Linked DNA regions of Homo sapiens: region 2 is linked to region 1. Evidence: fine-mapped expression QTL. A gene starts in region 1. The other region holds a variant in brackets. All regions are shown on one strand. Distances are from middle to middle. Region 1 holds the start of UTP20 (UTP20 small subunit processome component). Region 2 overlaps UTP20 (UTP20 small subunit processome component).

The links. PIP is the estimated chance that this variant, and not a neighbour inherited with it, causes the effect.
Region 2: its variant is the best candidate, but not a certain one, in a credible set for the expression of UTP20 in skeletal muscle (GTEx, PIP 0.76).

Annotation. Positions count from the first base shown.
Region 1 is chr12:101,277,487-101,282,874 of GRCh38, forward strand. It overlaps UTP20 (UTP20 small subunit processome component), which reads left to right and starts at 2,619. Exons shown (of 62, transcript NM_014503.3): 1 at 2,619-2,841; 2 at 3,630-3,710. The coding sequence starts at 2,797. RefSeq lists enhancers at 2,318-2,909, 2,643-2,692.
Region 2 is chr12:101,338,240-101,343,627 of GRCh38, forward strand. It overlaps UTP20 (UTP20 small subunit processome component), which reads left to right. Exons shown (of 62, transcript NM_014503.3): 30 at 1-38; 31 at 574-718; 32 at 2,284-2,371; 33 at 4,207-4,350; 34 at 4,548-4,598; 35 at 4,702-4,854. Among named protein-coding and RNA genes, the nearest start is that of UTP20, 61 kb to the left of the region's middle. The variant T/C (reference allele first, on the strand shown) is at 2,260.

The sequences.
Region 1 (5,388 bases):
AACTTGTCAGGTAGCCAGGTAGTAGAGAATAAATGGTCATTTATTTATCCACTTAGCAAACATTTATTTCATGCTCTATGCACCAACACAGTATCTTGAAAGACTGGTATTATTGTCATCTCTATTTTATAGATGAGGAAATTGGGTCTCAGAAAGGTTAAGTAATTTCTGAGCTTGCGCAATTATGGTGTCTGGCACATTCTAAGCATCTTTTATCCATTAGCTTATTTACTCTGCATAATCACCACCCGTGAGGTAGCTACTTTTGTTAGCTTCATTTACATATACGGAAATGTCATTCTGAAAGGGTAACTGACCCTACTAATAAATGGCAGAACCAGGATTACCTCCAGACAACCTGGTTCCAGCATCTATGCTCTCAACCACCATGTTCTATTGACATATTGTTAAGCCAGTCAGAGTCAAGTCAGTGTGTGAGGGTCATGTAATGAAGAACAATGCAAACAATAAATGGTCAATATAACTTGTGTCAGTTCTTTCAGTTTCTTTGATTTTTCTCTTCACTCCTTATTGTCCAGTTAACTCCATTACCAAAAATAAATTGCAGAGAAGGAAAATGGCACAATGATGTGGGGGTGATTTTGGCAACAGGTTGGGAAAATATTGCTTTGAGTGGGGGCTTCTACCCTCAGTTAACTGCAGGCTTCTAACTCTCTGAAACGTGCACATTTTAGTGTGGATGAGCTTCTTTGCATCTTTCTGGGAGAAGTTCTACAGCTTTCTTAGATTTCCCTGTGACCCATAAAAGGCTTTTAAAAAAAAAAGACCAATTATTAGCCTACTGAAAGCCAATGGAACATTAGGCACGTCAATATTTTATTATAAAAAAATCTATAAATGCTATGGAGGCATTAAAATATTTAGAACAACCCTGTGGTGACACAGAAAATGTTGATGTGATAATGCCAATAACAATTTGAAAGTGTTATGTTCACTTTCTCAACTCTGATTACCTCCTCAATCCATGCATATTTCACTTCCTTTCTTCCAACTAGACTGTACTTAGCAAGGTCACCAGTGACCTTCACCTTGTCAGATCCAGCAACCACTTCTCTATCCTCGAATTTGCAGTATAGTTGGCCACCAGCTCTGCTTCCATGCCATAACTAGTCTGTTTCTACCTTACTGGCTCTCTTTCCCAGTCGCAAATGCCTCACACTTGAGGTATTTAGGTGTATTTAAGTCACGTCTGCAGCCCAGACTGCTACAGTGAGCTCTGTACAACAATATATCCAATTGTCTACTTAACATCACTCCTTGACTAAAATGTAAGCATCTCAGACCAAGTATTTCCAGTCTGGGCATGGTGGCTCACCCCTGTAATCCCAGCACTTTGGGAGGCCAAGCCAAGAGGACTGCTTGAGTCCAGAAGTTTGATACCAGCCTGGGCAATATAGCAAGATCCCATCTCTACAAATAATAATAATAATAATAATAATAATAATAATAATAATAAAAGAGCTGGGTGTGGTGGTGCATGCCTGTAGCCCTAGCTACTTGGGAGGCTGAGGTGGGAGGCTCACTTTAGCCCAGGAATTGAAGGCTGTGAATATTTTCAAATAATTAATTAATACTATTATTGCCTTTCTCGTTTGGCTCCCAGAACAGTACCTGGTCCACAGAGGACTCTCAAGAAATAGTTGCTGAATGAATGAATGAATGTAAAATGGGGTAAATAATTATATTTTTAAATTATTTTTTAAAATTGTACATATATGTATATATAACTGTACAATTTAACAACATGCTATGTGTAGACATTAAAGTGATGGGAAAAACACCAAACATTAACAGCGGTTGTGCATGAAATTAAAAGATTTTTCTTAAAACTCCTTCTCTATTTTTCAATTTTATTTACAGCGTAGTGGTTAAGAATACCAAAATTTAGAGTCTGAGTGAAGACTGCCAGTTACCAGCTGCACAACCTTGGTTTCCTCTTGTGTCAAATTGGCTTAAAAATATACACAGTACCGGCCAGGCGCGGTGGCTCACACCTGTAATCCCAGCACTTTGGAAAACCGAGGCGGGCGGATTGCCTGAGCTCAGGAGTTCGCGACCAGCCTGGGCAACAAGGTGAAACCCCGTCTCTACTAAAATACAAAAGAATTAGCCGGGCGTGGCGGCGGGTGCCTGTAGTCCCAGCTACTTTGGACGCTGAGGCAGGAGAACTGCTTGAACCCGGGAGGCGGAGATTGTAGTGAGCCGAGATCGCGCCACTGCCCTCCAGCCTGGGAGACAGAGTGAGACTCCGTCTCAAAAAAAAAAAAAAAAAAGTATATATCTATATATAGATATATAGATAGACGCAGTACCTCCTTTGTATTAACATCCCTAATAAGCTTTACTGTGAAATTATGGATGAAAGGATCTTTGCACGATGCAGGTACGTAGTGAGGGACAGTAATGTTAGTTGATAACGATTACAGGTATGTTTTATTTTATAATGAAAATACATTTGTCTTCTAAACCTTTACCGAAGGGAGTGAAAAGAACACCTCACCCAAACGCCCGCCCTTATGTGCGCAGCCCCGCCTCCTGTAGGCCCCACCCCACCAAAGGGTGCGCCTGCGCCGTTCTTTTTTCCGTCCACGTGACCCACTCAGGCTCCTCCTTGTCTCCAACATGGCGGCGCCCAGGGGCTCAAGCCGCACGTGAGAAAGTCTGGGCATCTGGGAATCGGAGAGTATAGCCTGTGAGCCGCTTTCCCCTCCTTACTGTCGGTTGCATCCCTTCGACACTCCCGAGGCCGTCGCGGGCCACTGGCCCTCTGCAGCCATGAAGACAAAGCCCGTTTCCCACAAGACCGAGAACACCTACCGGGTGAGCGCGGGAGCTTAGGCAGGGAGCCGCGGGTCTCCGCTGCCTCAGTCGTGAGACAGGCTCTGAGCGAGACTCCAGGGGCCTCAGACTTCTGGGCCGAGTGTGTCACTTTCCTGGAGGCTCCGGCGAAAGAGGGAGACACTGGATGTAGTAAACATGGGTTGGAGGAGGAAAGAAGTGTGGACAGCAAGTTTCACCCATGTTTTATGGGGTCTGGCCAGTCCTGGGAATTTCCTGTAGTCCAGAATTAAATTCACTATTCCAGGAGATTGCTTAGGACCAATTCTCCCCTGCTCTTTTATCTTTAAAGACCGAATTGGGCGAGTCGGCTGGCGGTGAGTGATTCCCAGCTAAGGGCAAATATACAGCGCTTTCTCTGTTTGCCCCTTGATAGATTGTTTCCAGGTCTTCCTTAGGATACAATCATAGGTCTGTATATGTTTAAAAACACTTTTATTGCAGCGACTTTGCTAGGTCCCCATGCTTATGGGAGGGTATGAAACCTAATAGATCTAGCGAGACTAATTGCCAGCATCCACCTAGGCTCACCAGTCTGGCAATGGAAATTTTATTTGAAATGACATAGCTGAGAGAAATTATGCAAACATAGAAGTATTCATTATCTTTGAACAGTGATGCAGTAAATTTGTTTACGGCCGTATGTTTTTCAGTTTATTTTTCCACTTATCCTTTGTGATTAGAGATGCCTACATGCAGCATTCAAATAGATATTAAAGATCTGATAAATTTTAATTAATTATGTATCTTAAATATACTTTCCCTTCCAGTTTCTTACATTTGCTGAACGACTGGGGAATGTTAATATTGATATTATTCACCGGATTGATAGAACTGCAAGCTATGAGGAGGTAAGAGAATGTGATACTAGTCAATCTTCAAGTGTTCATGGTGTTTTAGTTTCTTCTGTTAGTAGAAGTGAATTGTTTTTCAAGGTATTCCTTTTTGGACATGAAATGCTTTAGACCTGTGCTGTTTCATACAGTAGCCACATATGACAAATTGGATTTAAAGTAAATTAAAAATTTGGGTGCCCAAATGTGGCTAGTTGCTAACATATTGAATAAATATAGAATTGGAACATTTTCATCTTTGCAGAAAGTTCTGTTGGGTGAAGCTCTATTAGACAATTGACTTGACTTTCAGCTGTCTTTGTGATTCTAGCCTCTCCCTTTCCCTTATGCATTCCAAGCACTGCTGCAGATCCATATTCCTGAAGCTATAACTTTAAAGTGATTTTGAGGAAGCCCTTTTCCCGGGGCTTAATTTTCTCCTTTATAAAAATAAAGGGGCTAGACTACATAATATTTTCCAGTTTTAACCATACTCTGACTCTGTCATCCCTTTATTTTACTTTTATTTATTTATTCATTTTTTTGAGATGGAGTCTCGCTCCGTCTCCAGGTTGGAGTGCAGTGGCGTGATCTTGGCTCACTGCAATCTCCACCTCCCAGGTTTAAGCGATTCTCCTGCCTCAGCCTCCCGAGTAGCTGGGATTACAGGTACGTGCCACCACACCCAGCTAATTTTTGCATTTTTAGTAGAGACGGGGTTTTGACATGTTGGCCAGGATGGTCTCAATCTCCTGACCTCGTGATCTGCTCGCCTTGGCCTCCGAAAGTGCTGGGATTACAGGTGTGAGCCACCACGCCCGGCCTTGTCATCCTTTTATGCAGAAGTCTTTTTCTGCATCATGTCGTTATTCCTCCTAGCATTTTAAGGTCGTACGTAACATGCCTATACCTTGGCGATCCAATCTCAGTTCGTAATATTCTTCTTTACTATAATCAGACTCCACTCGCTGGGTCTTTGAATGCATTATCTCCACTGTGTAAATTCAATGTGTTAAATGATGTCGTCTAGGTGAGCACATTGTGCTTTGAGAACTCATAGTAAAGGGAACCTAACCTACATTCTTTAGGGGTGTCAAAAAAACGGTGATCTAGACGAGGTGACACCTGAATTTTGTTTATATAGGTTTTAGCATGGTAAAGAGGACAGGAAAGCCTGTTCCAGGCTGAGGGAGAAGCCTATATAAAGGAACAGAAGCTAGAGAATGCATGTCACATTCAAGAAACTGCAAAGCAGTCCAGTGTGGTTATAGGTGTGTATAGGGTGTTTTTTTTTTGTATTCATGGTGACTGGGATGGGGCAAGGGGGCAACTGGTGAGATAAAGCTGGAGAAATAGGCAAGGATCATAAAGGACTTCATATGTGAAGCTAAGTTGGGGTTTTATCCTGAAGCTGTAGGGACTTAGAGTTCTAGGACTGTAAGCAGGGGAATGAATGACATGATCAGGTTTAAATTTTCAATCTCTCTGGCTTTAGTGTGGAGAAAAGAGCAGGACTGCAGTTCTTCATCATGTCATGATTCCTCTGCTAGCCTTTTAAGGTCCTGTGTAACATGCCTTTAACTTGGAGATCCAATCTCAGTTGTCCAGTTGTGAGGATTTGACTGTTATCTAAGTAAGAAATGATTATGGTAGCAGCAATCAAGATAGAGAGAAGAGAAAGATTCCAGAGATGTTG
Region 2 (5,388 bases), 61 kb after region 1:
TGGATGTGTATACCCTGGCATAGCAGAAAACATCGGTGGTATGTATGCTGACAAAGCAGATAATTCTTAGACTTCTGCTGTAGCAATTGTTTCCTTAGAAGAGAAAAAAAATCAGTATAATTTGACTCACTCGAGAGCATATGCTCAGAAGTTTCTTTTCCCTGGGAACTAATACTAATTTATATAAACTGAATTTTCTTTGTAGTTATAAGAATAGATTATTTACTCTCCAAGAAGTCTCAACTCTGCTGCAGGAAATTATGAAAATGATTTCTACTGTCATGTCTCTACATTCTTCTTACCATATTATCCCAAATAATTCCCTTACTATTACCAAAAAATGGTTTAAATAAAGCCTCAGGGGTCTCTTAAATAAGTTCTTGATTTAGCTAGTAATATAGCTATTTTGAATAAGAAGAAAGTTGTTTATTTAGAATTTAGAATTTATTTAGAATTGAAATTTAACTTAAATGTTCATAGTGGTTGAGTGCTTTTCTTATCATCATGAAGATTTTGTACAATTATGCCTTAAGAGAGTTTATTAAAATCAAATCAAATCACTATCTATTTCAGAGTCTATCACAATAGGAGGAAGATTAATTCTACCTCATGTACCTGCAATTCTTCAGTATCTCAGCAAAACCACAATAAGCGCAGAAAAGGTGAAAAAGAAAAAGAATAGAGCACAAGTCAGTAAAGAGCTTGGCATTCTTTCAAAGTAAGTGATATGTTGATACTTAAAAGATAACATTACCATCCTTGGTTTTAACTTTTTAAAAAATTATTATCTTGGCCAGGCGTGGTGGCTCACACCTGTAATCCCAGCACTTTGGGAGGCTGAGGTGGGTGGATCACCTGAGGTCAGGGGTTCAAGACCAGCCTGACCAACATGGCAAAACCCCGTCTCTACTAAAAATACAAAAGTTAGCTGGGCGTGGTGGTGGACACCTGTAATCTCAGCTACTCAGGAGACTGAGGCAGGAGAATGGCTTGAACCCAGGAGGCGGAGGTTGCAGTGAGCCGAGATCGCGCCACTGCACTCCAGCCTGGGCGACAGAGTGAGACTCCATCTCAAAAATAAAATAAAATAAAATAAATTTAAAAAAAATTATTATCTTGTTTTTCAGGTGTTGGAATCTGGCAATAAGAAGCTAAAAAGTTTTTTAGTATTTTTGAATGCCCTTTACTTTTAAGTTAATGCAGAATTCCCTTTCTCTGCTGGATTACTTACTAGAAACCGTTCATAGCATCTGCCTTTATTTAATAAAATTAAAGGGGACAGATTTTTCAAAATCCTAAAGTAGACTAATAGATTTGTTTGTTTAGCATTTGTGTATTTTGAGTTTTGTGGAATTGCAGTTTTTTACTCTTTAGTGTAATGATAAAAATAATTAACTTAAAAGAGCAGATTGTTCGGTTTTTTTGAGTCAAGATCTCACAAGGGTTGTTAAAGAGTCTGTTTGGCAGTAGACCTAGGAGTGTATTGTGATTTCGGTAAAGGGAAAGGTTAATAAACCTGAGTGCAAGAAACAATTCTATCTTAATTTTAAGTTGACCATTACAAGGCTTAGTTGTTGAAAATGTATTTTTTCTGTTACTTACAACAGTGTCAACAAAAAGTGATATGTTCGAATCCTCTAGAAACTTCTTTGCAATGCATTTTAAAATACTATTGTATTTCTAAGTTATGCAGAGTGGGAAATCATACTAATACACTCATTAAATTTCATCCCAGGCTATGTAGTAGTAGAAGGATGATGAGAGGAGATTAGGAACCAGAAAGACCAGAGTTTGAAAGACCTGCTGTACTTCTTCTAGCTGTGAGACATCAGTTTCTCTGAGTCTCAGTTTTTTTCAGGGCAAAATCAGGCTGATGATTCCTATATTGCAGGGCTATCATGGGTGTTAAATTGAAATACTGTACATAAACCCTTAAGTCTTGGCACTTAAAAATGTTATTTCTTTTCAAAATAAAACAATTACTAATTACCAGACTGGAGTTCACTCTAACCCACCTATTCACCTGTTCACTCTAACCCACACAATCAGATATTGCAAAAGAAATAGAATAGTGGCCATGAGCTTGATGTTGGAGAGGAGTAAGAGTGAGCACAGCTAAGTAACTGAGGTAAACTTTTTATACATGCACACATACTTAAAAGCTAGCTGTGTATTGGAATGCTAAAACTGTGTCTTTAGTCATTGTTTTTCTACAAAAAGTTTAACTTCTTAGAGAAATATCCTTGTATATGTTCCTTA[T/C]ATATCCGTTTTTTCCTTCTTTAGGATCAGCAAGTTTATGAAAGACAAAGAACAAAGTTCTGTACTCATTACGCTTCTCCTTCCATTCCTCCACCGTGGCAATATTGCTGAGGTACAAACTCATAGGACACTTAACTTTGTCTCTAGAGTGGCACTTTATCACTAGGTTTAATTGCGAGCAGCAATTTTACTGGCTAGATTTTGTGATGCATTTGTCGCAAGGAACTTAAAATACTTTATATAGAAATTAAAAAAATTAGAAATAGAGGGAAAAGACTGGGACAGACACTAGGAATGGGGGCAGGCAAGAAAGCGGAGACATCGTCATCTACAACAACAAAGTACTAGCCCCTTTATTTCCCTTGTTTAGCTTCTGATTCATTTCAGGGGTTTTTCTTTCTCTAACAAGCCTGGAACCCAAGAAGTGCATTGTGTAATCTTTTTTTTTTTTTTTTTTTTTTTTTTTTTTTTTTTTTTTTTTTTTTTTTTTTTTTGAGATGGAGTTTCACTCTTGTCCTCCAGGCTGGTGTGCAATGGCAAAATCTCGGCTCACTGCAACCTCCACCTCCTGGGTTCAAGCAATTCTCCTGCCTCAGCCTCCCAAGTAGCTGGGAATACAGGTGCCTGCCACCACGCCCAGCTAGTTTTTTTGTATTTTCAATAGGGATGGGGTTTCACCGTGTTGGCCAGGCTGGCCTGGAACTCCTGACCTCGGGTGATCTGCCCGCCTCGGCCTCCCAAAGTGCTGGGATTACAGGCATGAGCCACCGCGCCCGGCCTCATTATATAATCTTAATTGTAGATCACAGTGGCAAAACAGAATAAAATCAGACTTTTAATATTCAGACACAGCTAAGTGTTCCTGATATGATTTTCAAACCCTAGTTCAATCTTAATTAGGAGTCCTCCAGTGGCTCAAGCTCATTTGTCAGACCTCAGTAGTGATACTAAACATTTCTCCCCACATAGTTGTTCAATTTAGAAGACCACAGATCTGTAGACAACCAGAAATGTATACAGTTGGCCCTCTGTATTCACATTTCCACATATGTGGATTCAACCAATCATAGATGAAAATATTTGGAGAAATAACAATATAATTATAAAAATGATAGAAACTTTAACTGGCAGGGCACAGTGGCTCACGCCTGTAATCCCCGCACTTTGGGAGGCCAAGGCAGGCAGATCACGAGGTCAGGAGTTCAAGACCAGGGTGGCCAACATAGTGAAACCCTGTTTCTACTAAAAATAAAAAAATTAGCCTGGCATGGTGGCGTATGTCTGTACTCCCAGCTACTTAGGAGGCTGAGGCAGGAGAATCGCTTGAACCCAGGAGGTGGAGGTTGTGGTGAGCTGAGATCATGCCACTGCACTCCAGACTGGACAACAGAGTGAGACTCCATCTCAAAAAATATATAAATAAAATAAAAATAATACAAATTTTAAAAATGCAGTATAACAACTATTTACGTAGCATTTACATTGTATTGGGTATTATAAGTAATCTAGAGGTGACTTAAAATATACAGAAGGGTGTGTGTGGGTGATATGCAAATACCATGCCTTTTTATATAAGGGACTTAAACATCCTTGGAGTTTGGTATTTTTTGGGGTCCTGGAACCAGTCCCCCTTGGATACCGAGGGACGACTGTACTTCAGCAAGCTCATTTTCTTGTATCTTTTTTGATTAGACAATAGAAGAAATTATGTTTCAAAACTACATATATTGCTTATTAGAATTAAAGGAAGAAACTGGTTCACACATTCTTATGGGTTTTACATTAAATTAAAATGCTAAAAACTTTTAAAAGACGATAAAATAATTTTTCCAATTACTACTTTTACATCTTATTCACAATTGTTTTCTATGCTATAATATATTAAAGTATAAGTTGACCAGTTTATAACTTACTGAAATATGATTTCTCTGATTATTTCTTCTCAAGGATACAGAGGTTGATATTCTGGTGACAGTACAAAACTTGTTAAAGCATTGTGTGGACCCTACAAGCTTCCTCAAGCCTATAGCAAAACTTTTCTCAGTTATTAAGAACAAATTGTCAAGAAAATTGCTTTGTACGGTTTTTGAGGTCTGTACTATTCATTTTTACTCCAAATCACCCTTTTAAAAAAATGTAATTATGACTTGTAAACCATATTAGGGGCTTTCTTCATGCCAGGGTGATGTTTTTATATGAATTTGAATGGGGACAGGTAGCTGAGGGGAGGAGGGCAGAAAAGTTAAAGTTTTATTCACTGATAAATACACTGTTTTCTTTCCTTTCAGACTCTTTCTGATTTTGAGAGTGGGTTAAAATATATTACTGATGTTGTCAAGGTAAGAAAGAAGGGTTTCTCTTTGGCTTCAAAAGTATTATCATTTTTGTTTACTGAAGATTTATATGCCTTCTTTTATATAACTTCAATGGCATTTCTTATAGCTTAACGCCTTCGATCAAAGACATCTTGATGATATCAACTTCGACGTTCGCTTTGAGACTTTCCAGACCATCACCTCTTACATTAAAGAAATGCAAATTGTGGATGTTAACTACCTAATTCCAGTTATGCATAATTGTTTCTATAATCTAGAGGTAGGTTATTATAGCAAAATTTTTAAATTATTTTTTATTGTTTTGGTAATACGGCTGCCTAATACAGTGACCTGATCTTTAAATTTGTTTTTTGAGGGGGGACAAAGGTTTTTAGGATTAAATTTCTTTTAGATGAAGAATCTTATGTCTGGCAAAACAGTTATTCTCATGATTTAAAAGGCAAATATTGTGAATAAAATAATACATATGAAAGCATTTTGAAAAAAATCAAGAAGTTATGTATTAGAATAGGGAAATCCATAGAGATGAAGTACATTAGGTCACTAAAGGCTGCAGAAAGGGAGGAATGGGGCGTGATTTCTAATGGGTATAGGGTTTCTTTTGGGAGTGATGAAAATGTTCTGGAATTAGTGGTGATGATCACACAACCTCGTGAATATACTTAAAACCACTGAATTGTAAATTTTTTTTTTGGAGACAGGATCTCGTTCTGTCACCCAGGCTAGAGTGCAGTGATGTGATCTTGGTTCACTGCAGCCTCTGCTGCCAGGTTCAACCAATTCTCCCACCTCA